2 linked regions of the Homo sapiens genome follow. The protein of the gene in region 2 purifies or fractionates together with the protein of the main gene of each other region. This does not show direct contact. Each region holds a gene or a part of one and is shown on either strand. Other genes may lie near its edges.

Region 1 (4,932 bases), on a different chromosome or scaffold from region 2:
GACTTGGCACACAGTTACCTCCATATTTAGAATTTCTACATCATTCCAAAAATAAATACAAGATTTCACCTTCATAGTTAGCGGTTCTCCCTCAGGAACCTAACAGACAGCATTAGTGGGCTTATCTCTCTAATCTTACAATTTTGCCAGCCTGGGTGGGTGTCTATTTCTAGTAATACTAGGGAAAAAAAGCCTCTTGCCAATCCCACAGCACATTCCACTGTAACCTTTCACAGCATTTAAAGGCTTACAAAAACCTCTTTTTCTAATTTCCTTTAAGGCTATACTCTTGGGGGTAAAAGCTGAAGTTCAGGGGAATGAATGACATTGATTTTTACTCCACAGGTGTGGACCTGGTGAAATGTCCTTAGTAACATGAATCAAATGCTTAAAAAAATTCAGAGAATGGCAAACCTGACAAAAAGTTCAGTCAAAAAAGTGAGGAACTCTGTAACTTTGCTTTAGAGACTGAAAAGAACACTCAGTGTTTCATTTCTTAGATATTTTCAAATGGTAATTTTTCAGCTATGGGCTGAGTCCACTGCTGGAACTACTACCATTAAACTCATCTCAGAGTTGGTGTGAGTCTCTGTCCTTTTCACATGCTATTTAAGAAACCACACAAACTATGGTATTGCATATCTGACTCTATTTAAGACACACACACACACCCTTTTACATGAGGTTCTCAGTAATGCAGAGATTAGTAAGAGCTACACATAGGAGTGGTCACCATATTGGACAACATATCTAGCAGGCATGCTCAAAATAATGTGCAACGGATATTCAATGCTGCATCACTTATAAAGCAAAATATCGGAAACTACAAACGTCCATCCATAGGAACTGGCTAAATAAAATTAAGGTATAATCCCTAAAAGAGAACACTAAGCAGCCACCAAAAAAAAAAAATAGTTCTATATGCTCTGATATAGGCAAATACTTCAAAATTTTTCAAGTAAAAAGCAGAACACTGTGTATAGTATGCAACCACTTGTGCATAAAAATGTACGTATACATAATACAGTTAATGGTGGCTGCCTGTTTGGAGAGTAACTGTGATTAGAAGGCAAAGGTGGGGAGATTTACTTTTCACTGTATTTTTATCTTGTTGTGCCTTTTGATTTTGTACTCTTATTTATTACCTATTGGGATACTTAATGCTGACTCAAAACTCGACCAAGGCAAGCCAAGGACAATTTTGAGAAAAGGAGTCAGTGAATGAAGTCTGAACTGCCCAACGGCTCTGCAACACAACCTCCATGGTGGACATAATGGCATCAGGACATTTTAGCCTGAGAACTTTGAACATTTTCTAGAACAATCTCCTCTTGTTCCAACTCCAGGCTTTGCAAGCTCATGTGCCTTCCACATGGACCTGCCTACCACAAGCTTGTTTCACAGCCCCTAATAATCCAAACTATGTACGCAGCTTAGCAATTCAGGTTTTTATCGTTTTTAAAGGCCTGTTCTTAGTGAAAACAAAACAAAATAAGGACACCAAAAACAAGTTTCCAAGTCTGCAAAGCTGAAAGTCAGATACTAGACTGTGGCAAATCCAGCAAGGTAGTATTACTCTTTGAGACACGTTTAGGAAGGCAACCAAGTAGCTTCCCCTAAAGATAGTGCTTTCTTTCAATATGTATGTTAATAATGGCATAGCTACAAGGACAGTTCCTATTTTTTCTAATATTTCCCCCACCTCGTTGTATTAAGTTACTATTCTCTCGTTAACACTATTTTTGGCTTTCTATCTGCCACCATGGAAGAGGATGACAAGTTTGCTCTAAATTCTCCTGCAGATTACTGTTATTCATTGAGGGCCTACTATGAGGTAAGCACTACTCTAGGCGCCAAGAGAAATTCAAAAAGCAAATAAAACAATCTGGGTGAGCATAAAAGAAATCTGGATGAGGGGGAAAATCTGTACAAACTCAGAGGTACAAGGGCACGGAACACAGGAGCAGGCAAGGTCCTGATTAGATCTATGTAATCAGGTGTTGTTCTGCCACTTCTCTCCACAATATCACCATTCCCCTAGGCCCTCAATGGCCTTTAGCCACCTCCACTTTTTTTTTTTTTTTTTTTTTTTTTTTTTTTTTGAGACTGAGTTTCACTCTTGTTGCCCAGGCTGGAGTGCAGTGGCGCGATCTTGGCTCACCGCAACCTCCGCCTCCCGGGTTCAAGCGATTCTCCTGCCTCAGCCTTCCTGAGTAGCTGGGATTACAGGCATGCGCCACCATACCTGGCTAATTTTGTATTTTTAATAGAGATGGGGTTTCTCCACGTTGGTCAGGCTCGTCTTGAACTCCTGACCTCAGATGATTCGCCCGCCTTGGCCTCCCAAAGTGCTGGGATTACAGGCATGAGCCACCGTGCCCGGCCTAGCCACCTCAAATTTTTGGCTGGCCTCTGCCTTCTCACCGCATAGGCAGTCTGGAGGAATTGCTGCATCCTCTCCTTCCTCTTTTCCCTTGTGAGCTCCATGATATCCTTCCCAGCAGGAACAAATGGGATGCTGCATAACTGGCAGATATCTCCCGCCTTGTACCTTAACTAGAATTCCCCAAATTGGAGTCCCATATCATTCAACTTTTGCTGTAAGTTGAGTAAAGGGAATTTTCTGTACCTAGCTCATGAAAGATGCTTAGTCAGTATCTGCTCTGCACCCACAATAGGCAAGAATTGGAAAAATCTGAATTGTTGTAATGACGATTTCTATTAAATCTTATGTTTTGTATAACTCCAATTTTATGGGTTTTAAATGTGTTATCTGGAGGGAAAACAAGATTGGTCAAATACACAGAGAAAACACTGGGTTATACCAAGTTAAATGAGTTTCTTTACTGTAGGATTACTGATGGTACGTTTTTACTTCTATTTATTTTCTTATTTTTTGAGACAGGATTCGGCTCTGGAGTGGTGGTGTGGTCTTGGTTCACTGCAGACTCCGCCTCCTGGGCTCAAGTGATCCTCCCATTTCAGCCTCCTGAGTAGTTCAGACTACAGGCGTACACCACCATACCCAGCTAATTTTTCTATTTTTTTGTAGAGATAGGGTTTTGCTATGTTGCCCAGGCTGGTCTCGAACTCCTGGGCTCAAGCGATCTGCCCACCTCAGCTTCCCAAAGTGCTGGGCTTACAGGTGTGAGCCACTGCACCTGGCTTGATGATACACTTAATAAGTTAAAATGAACCTCAAATGAGAATACTGGGGGACTATTATGTAAAGCATTTCTCATATAATCTTTTGACTTTTTTTCACAGAGGATCTTCTAGGCCCTAATTGCTTCTCTGTAAGATGACTTACCTCATAGGTTAATATGAGGGTTGAATAGGTTAAGACACGTAAAATGCTTAGAACGATGCTAGGCATACAATAACCACTCAAGCAGAGTTAACTATGATTACCACTACATTCCCTCATGCTGATATTAAACACTACTCCCAGAAACATGAAATGAGAAAATTTTTACTTATGGAACAAGTCCTCTCTCTGCCTGAGAGGAATTGTTTTAAGGCAACAAATAATAGACAAAATTTACAGAAATAATCAATATACATAACATGCTTATCAATAAGAAACATATCTTATATACGCACAAAGTTTAAAAGGCTCTTAGGAGAAAAGTCTGGAGTACTCTGAAGGCTAAGGTAGCAAATACTATGTGCCAGTGACTACAGATATAGTCATAGTACGTACATGACTAGCACATATGAACAAAGTTTAATGAAAAAACCTAAGAAACGCATAGATAAGTGAATATTACCTTGAATAACAACCCAAATATTATTTGCTAATCACTATAAAACAACTGGGAAACCCATTACATGTTCATATATGTATGTAGGCTTTCTCGGGCACATTGGCCCATGCCTATAATCCCAGTACTTCGGGCAGCTGACGCTCCAGGAGGATCACTTGAGGCCAGAAGTTTGAGACCAGCCTGAGCGACATAGAGAAATCCTGTCTCTATAAAATATTTAAAAATTAGCCAGGTGTGGTGGTGTGCACCTGTAGTCTTAGCTACTCAGGAGGCCGGGGCAGGAGGATTACTTAAGCCCAGGAGTTTGAGAGTGTGCAGTGAGCTATGATCATCCCACTGCACTCTAGCCTGGGCCACAGAGCAAGACTCTGTCTCTTTGGGAAAAAAAAAAAAAAAAGTAGTTGTTGCCATATTTTGTTTAAGAGGTGTTAGAGGTATTTGGTTGAATTTATCTCCCAGATGTGTCACAATCTGAAATTTGCTTAAACAAATTCTACAAAGGTAATATGCATCTTACACAGAGATACAGTTCTTAAGTGAGATCTATTATAATTTATACAAGAATTTTATATAAATTTATACAGGAATTTCTGTCTAGTCATCTGGGCTGGTTTTAGAACTACACAAAATTTTCTCAGAACTGAGAAATGGCCAAGTACAGAGGCTCAAGTCTGTAATTCCAGCACTTTGGGAAGCCGAGGTGGGAGAATCACTTGAGCTCAGGAGTTCGAAACCAGCCTGGGTAACATAGTGAGATCCTGTCTCTACAAAAAAAAATTTTTTTTAATTAGCTGGGCATAACGGCACAGTCCTGTAGTCCCAACTACTCAGGAGGCTAAGGCGGGAGGTTGGGGGGTTGGGGCTGGAGTGAGCCATGATTATGCCACTGCACTCTAGCCTGGGTGACAGTGAGACCCTGTCTCAAAAAGGAGAAAGAACTGAGAAATGATTAGAAAGAAAAAACTAAGCTATGAAGAATTAAATGGGTTAGTGGAACTAAATTTTAAGGGAAAAAGTGTACATTTTATAAAAGTCAACTTCCCAGCTAACCCTGTAACACTGATGGTTAATTTTTCTGGTTTTAAAATACCAGGATTCCAAAGCTATAAGCTCACAACAAATCACTGCTTCTATAATCCAGTTTCTTCCCTTTATTTTATGAGCT
Region 2 (5,460 bases):
TTAGGGAAGAGAACCAAAGAGAGGAGCTGAGAGGAGTAGGGCAGAAAGCACTGAAGAGGGAGGTAAGAAGATAGTAGGCCTCTGGTGGACACTCATCCACAAAGAGCCGAGTGTCTAGAGTGACCAGCATCACACATGTCTGTGGCTCAGCCTGGGGCTGGGACCAGTACTGGTCAGTAACCAGGTCAGGGACCCAGCCTGGGTAAGGGGTCTTGTATAGGGGTGGAATTGGTGTTCAACCTGTGGCCAAGGTTGGAGGACTAGGGCTTGGCTTGTGGCTGGAATTGCAACTTAGTCTGTATTGGGATTAGGGCTCAATCTATGGCTGGAAATAGAACCAAAGAGAGAATACTTTTTGTTTGAATAGCCTGAGGAGCAAACTGTTACCTGTGTTCACAGGCCCTTGGCATTCTTCAGGGCTCCGACACCTCAGGAGCCTGATACCACACAGACTTGAACATTTCCATCCGTTAGCACTGTTTCTGAAAGCACCTAAGATATCACCAGATTTCTGACCCACAACAGGCTTGAGATCTCACTTAAACTAAGATGAGGACCTTTGTAAGAGACCTTCAAATAGCATCTTGGCAAATGACTATAGGATCCTTTCTAGATTCATAGGCTGTCAGCACCAAACAAAATGAGGCTCAGATAAAGAAGTGGTCTGTCCCAACTCACACAGCCAATAAGTGACAAATCAGGGTCCAGGACCCAGGTCTGTTCTGTTTTTTGTTGTTGTTGTTGTTGTTGTTTTTTAAGAGATGAGGTCTCACCATGTTCCCCAGGCTAGCCTTGAACTCCTGAGCTCAAGGGTTCCTCTCCCTCTCAGCCTCCCAAGTAGCTGGTGACTGGAACTACAGGTGTGTACCACTGTGCCTGGCTTTTGTTCTTTTCTTTAATAAATTTGCTGTGTGACCTTGGGCAAGTCACTCTTCTCTTCTGGGCTTCAATTTAACTCTAAGTATAGGTATATTGATGGGTAGAAGCAGATGGTTTTTGATAGTTTCACCAGCTCTAACATCCAGGAATCTTAACATTCTCCAATGAGTGCCAGTCCACCTCACCCTAATGAGTTGGCTCCAAGTCTTTTTCTCACATGTCTGGAGATCTGTATTTACAAGGCTGTAGGGAAGATGGAATACTGGCAGGACCTGCTGAGAGGTACAGAGCTGAAGGCCAGGGAGGCACAGACGAGGGAGATCAGAGTGGATCAAGTCACCGGGGAGAGTTTGCTTGAAGAGGTGTGACCTAGGCAAGGCCATGAAAGGCTGACAAGATATGGGAAGCAAAGAAGCAGGGTGTGGGTAGGATAACAGTCTGGTTCTAGGACATCTTTCCAAGATGCATCAAGGGCAATGATATCTGGAGAAAAAATTGCAGGGACTAAGAACAAGGTGTCAAGTGGATGGGAGGCAGGCATGGAGGGCATCCTGTGCAAAGTCTCTTTTAAGAAATAGGAGGCAGGTGTTAGGAGGAAACCCTCAGGGTTCAAGAAAGCGGAAGAGACATTTATTAAGTACACAGCATTGTGCTGGGCACTTTAATCCGTTACCTCCTTTAATCCTCCCAAGAACCCTGCAAGTTCTGGATTAGTATCTCTCTTAGACAGATTAGGAAATTGAGGCTCAGAGAAGTTATGACTTACAAAAAGTCACACAGCTCTAAGGGGCACGGCCAGGATTTGAATACAACACTGAGCTAATTCCATTACTTGTTCTATGTAATGGAAAGACTTATGTGAGTCTCATGCTGCTGGCAGGCCAGAGACACTCAGCCTGCTCTCATGAGCAGAAACAAGACCGTAACAAAGTCCAGCACTACCAGCTCCAGAATGTCACGTGCAAAAGAAAGGCATAGATGGAGGAGCTGAGCTGGGGAGAGGAAAGAGCACCAGACTAGGAGTTGGGAACGCAGGGTCTTAATCCCAGGCTGTGCCATGTATGTCCTGGAGAAACCCACTGCTTGAATGAAGCTCCTTTCTTCTGATTAAGAGAATGTGGTTTGGTTTTCCATCCTCACAGCATTCTAAGAGATTGGCTGGGCATGGGGAGGGGGGACCACCAGCCTATTGTGGGCGCAGTGAGGAAACTGAGGCTCAGATTGATGATGTAACCTGTTTGATGTTACACTGTATCTATGTGGAAAAGCATAATTGGGAACTGATTTTTTTTGGAAGCTATCAAGCACCAGTCTTGTGCTAGCTGCTTTACCTCTTTTCTCTAATTTAATCCTATCAACTCTCCTAGGATTTTTACTTCCGCTTTATAGATTAGGAAACCCAGGGTCAGAGAGGTGCACTCTGTGACGGCCTCCCAGCAGCTGGCATTCAGCGGGGCTGGGATGGTGAAGACGCTGGTCTATCTCACTGTGCCCTGCCGCCTCCCAGAGTCTCACACTGCAAATTCAGGGTTCCTTCTAGACAATGTGAGGCAGGGAATAAAGCATGGGATCTGGAACTAGAGTTCTGGCTTTGGATGGCTTACCCGCTCTGTAAGTTTTAGCAAGTTCCTCCTTGCTCAGCCTAAGTTTTCTCATCTGTAAAGTGCGAATGATAATACCCACCTCACTGGAGAGTTGCGAGGATCAAAAGAGAGAAAAGAATGGGAAGGTTATCCTAATTACCTCTCATTTCTGTCCAATGGCTCTTTCCAAAGGCAAAAAGCCTTTTCTTCTCCATCACACTCCTTACCTGTAGCCAGACATACCCGACTCCCTCCTAGGAACAGTAAGTCCTCCCCCAACCCAAAACACAGTGCCCTGCCCTCTCCCCCCGCTGCCCTTGGTGCCCCTCCTCAGGTCCCTGGCAGCAGCCCTCTCTCAGTTCTGAGTTGTGCCGAGTTCCTCCGGTCCCCCGGCCCATACTGGTCCTCACGGAGTCTCCACCCCTCCGGCACAGGTGCTGCCTGGACGGCTGTCAGAAGAGCTTGGGGTCCAGGTCCTGGCGCTGTCCCTCACATTCCAGGGGCCGCATCCCTCCTCTGCCCACCCAGCCTCCCGGTCTACTTACGGGCTCGAGCGTGGGAGTCCAGGGGGAACCAGAGCAGCGCGAGTCCCAGCAAGGAGGAGAGGACCCTCACCTCGGGAACCATCCTTTCCCCAGGGTCAGGCCGCTGGTCCGGGAGCGGAGTCGGGAGGAAGGGAGACGAAAAGGACACGGAGGCACAGGGGCCACAGATCAACCCACAGACCCCAGGAGGTCTGCTGCTAGAGCGGGGTCGGAGAAGGGCCAGGAAGCAGCGGTGGGCAGGAAAGGAGGGCAGGAAGGGAGGTCTAAGGTGGGAAGAAGAGAAAGGTGGAAAGAGAACGCGGGGAAAGGAGGGAGAGATGGAGAGACGAAGGAAGGTCCAGCAGAAGGGAGAGGCGATCAAAGAAAGGGGGAAGGTGAGAGGGAGAGGAGGAGAAAGCAGGGAGAGGACCGGCGTCTGCCGAGCGCGCAGCGCCGGGCGAGGCGCGCGGGACCAGCGGGTGTTGCGGGCGCGCGGGCTAGAGGCGGCCGGCGCCCCCTGCTCGGTGGGCTCGGGGTCGGGCCGCGGGGGCCTGGGGCCCGGCGGGGCGGCGGTCCCAGCAGCGGCGGCGGCGCGGCGGCCGCGGAGGGAGGCTGAGCGCGGGCCGGCTGTGCTCGCCAAGGGCTTCAGGCGCCGCGCTCGGGCGCATTTGTACTTTGCCGCGGGAAGCAGGCAGCCCGGCCTGGCGCTGGCCTAGCGCTGGCGCCTCCTCTGGGGCACCGCGGGCTCGGTGGATTGGCCACCCGAGAAACAGGCCCACTTTTTCCCCTCCTCTCTTGTGCGGGTCTCCGGGACGGACGCTCCAGGCGCGGCGCCGAGTGGAGGCGAGGGGGCTGCGGAGGGGGAAGGGGCCACGCGGGCCACGGGGTTTAACCCCTGACTCCCCGCGACGCCAAGAATGCAGGAGGGCAGAGTTGAGGGAGACCTCAGGTGGAACTTTCAGGTGGGGAAGGCTGAGCTGTCGGGGCTGCGGGTACCGGGAAGGCTCAGGGTAAGGCGCTCGGCGGTGCGTGCCCGGAACTCCGCAGATGGATGGAATCAGAACACTGGCGTTCTTAATTCAGTTTGTGGTCTACAGCACGCCACCGGAGAGTCTGTTTTCCCAGCTTTAAAATGGGCATTTTAAGATCTTAAAATATCTCTACTATCTTCCCACGAGTGTTGCTAAGATGAAATAAGGTAATGAACGTCGAAACACTCACCCCACAAAGAGAAGGGGTCCTAATTCCAGGTGCCTACAATACCAGTGGCCCCTGTCCCCACTCCGTCTGCCCATGCGCCATTCTCAGGAAAGTCAGCCCATAGGGATCCTGTGCCTTCCCCTGGAGGTCTTCCTCTGCTCCCCGCTCCCACTCCCGAATCAAGGCAAGATCTCTCCTTTGCCTTTGCAGGTGAGGCCTGCACTTCTCTGGGAGTGATGGTCACCTTCAGTCATCTTTAGGGAGAGCTGATTGTCAAAGAGTTTTCTTTCCCACCAGAAGGGGAGCTCCCTGAGGACAGGGCCCTGACACCCTCCAGCCCTCAAATGGTGCTCCATCTCTTGTGTTGAATGAACACATGCACTAATAGGACACTAAGAAGAGAATAGCCAGCTCTGGCCAGACCAGAAACACACAAGCTCTGAAATCAAAAGGGCAGAGTCACTGTCCTGGCTCCATCCGTAACTTGTTGGGCCACTTTGAGTAAATACATCTATCCTTGCTTTGGACCTCAACTTTCTGCCCAGCTTCTCTTGAAGAGCTAATGGAGACTCCAAAGAGTGCCAGAGGAGTATGAGGTGGGAAGGGATGTTGAGCCATATCCCACTCTGGTAGGGAATCATATTTCCGGGTTTAAACACTTGGCTGGCTGGCTGTAAAGGTATCTTTCTGGGCCAAGGCTGGGCTCCCCATTGCACTGTGCTTTCAGGGTATTACCCCCAAGATCTCCACCCTCCAAAAGAGAGCAGTAGGAGGAACCAGTGATCCCCAAACTGGCCCTTCCTAGGGCTCTCAGGATCAGGGACAAACATGATCTGTCCAGTGCCCTTCAGGCTTAATTTCTACTCTAATCTGGCCAGTCTCTTCCTTTCCCCTGAGTATTCTTTATTTTAACAGATAGTGCAAGCTTATGCATGTCACCATGCTTCCCTTTTTGCCTTTGCTTCCAGGGATCTCAGAGTTAAATCCTGTGCTGCTTAATTGCATAAACAATCTCATCCCAAGGGTTTGGGACAGTGATCTTTTCCTTTCTCTTTGTTTAAAATGTGCTGTGCACATATATTCATGTCTTAGATGTAAGAAGTGGATTAAGATGGGTTCCCCTACATCCTGCCCATCATACTTCAAAAAAGGCCTCCACCATCTCAGCCCTCCTGTCCATCCCTATTATCCCCAGAGTTGAGGCCAACTTCATTCCTTTTTTTTTTTTTTTTGAGATGGAGTTTTGCGCTTGTCGCCCAGGCTGGAGTGCAGTG

The links. The genes of interacting proteins can lie anywhere in the genome.
Region 1: the proteins of CHRDL2 (region 2) and RMND5A purify together in Homo sapiens (affinity purification with mass spectrometry; one large-scale study listed by BioGRID and IntAct). This does not show direct contact.

What each region holds. Positions count from the first base shown.
Region 1 is NC_000002.12:86,754,345-86,759,276, reverse strand, and holds part of RMND5A (E3 ubiquitin-protein transferase RMND5A), read right to left. Parts: intron 1-4,932.
Region 2 is NC_000011.10:74,727,800-74,733,259, forward strand, and holds the start of CHRDL2 (chordin-like protein 2 isoform 2 precursor), read right to left. Parts: upstream 3,628-5,460; 5' UTR 3,090-3,627; coding exon 3,008-3,089; intron 1-3,007. UniProt on the Homo sapiens protein: May inhibit BMPs activity by blocking their interaction with their receptors. Has a negative regulator effect on the cartilage formation/regeneration from immature mesenchymal cells, by preventing or reducing the rate of matrix accumulation.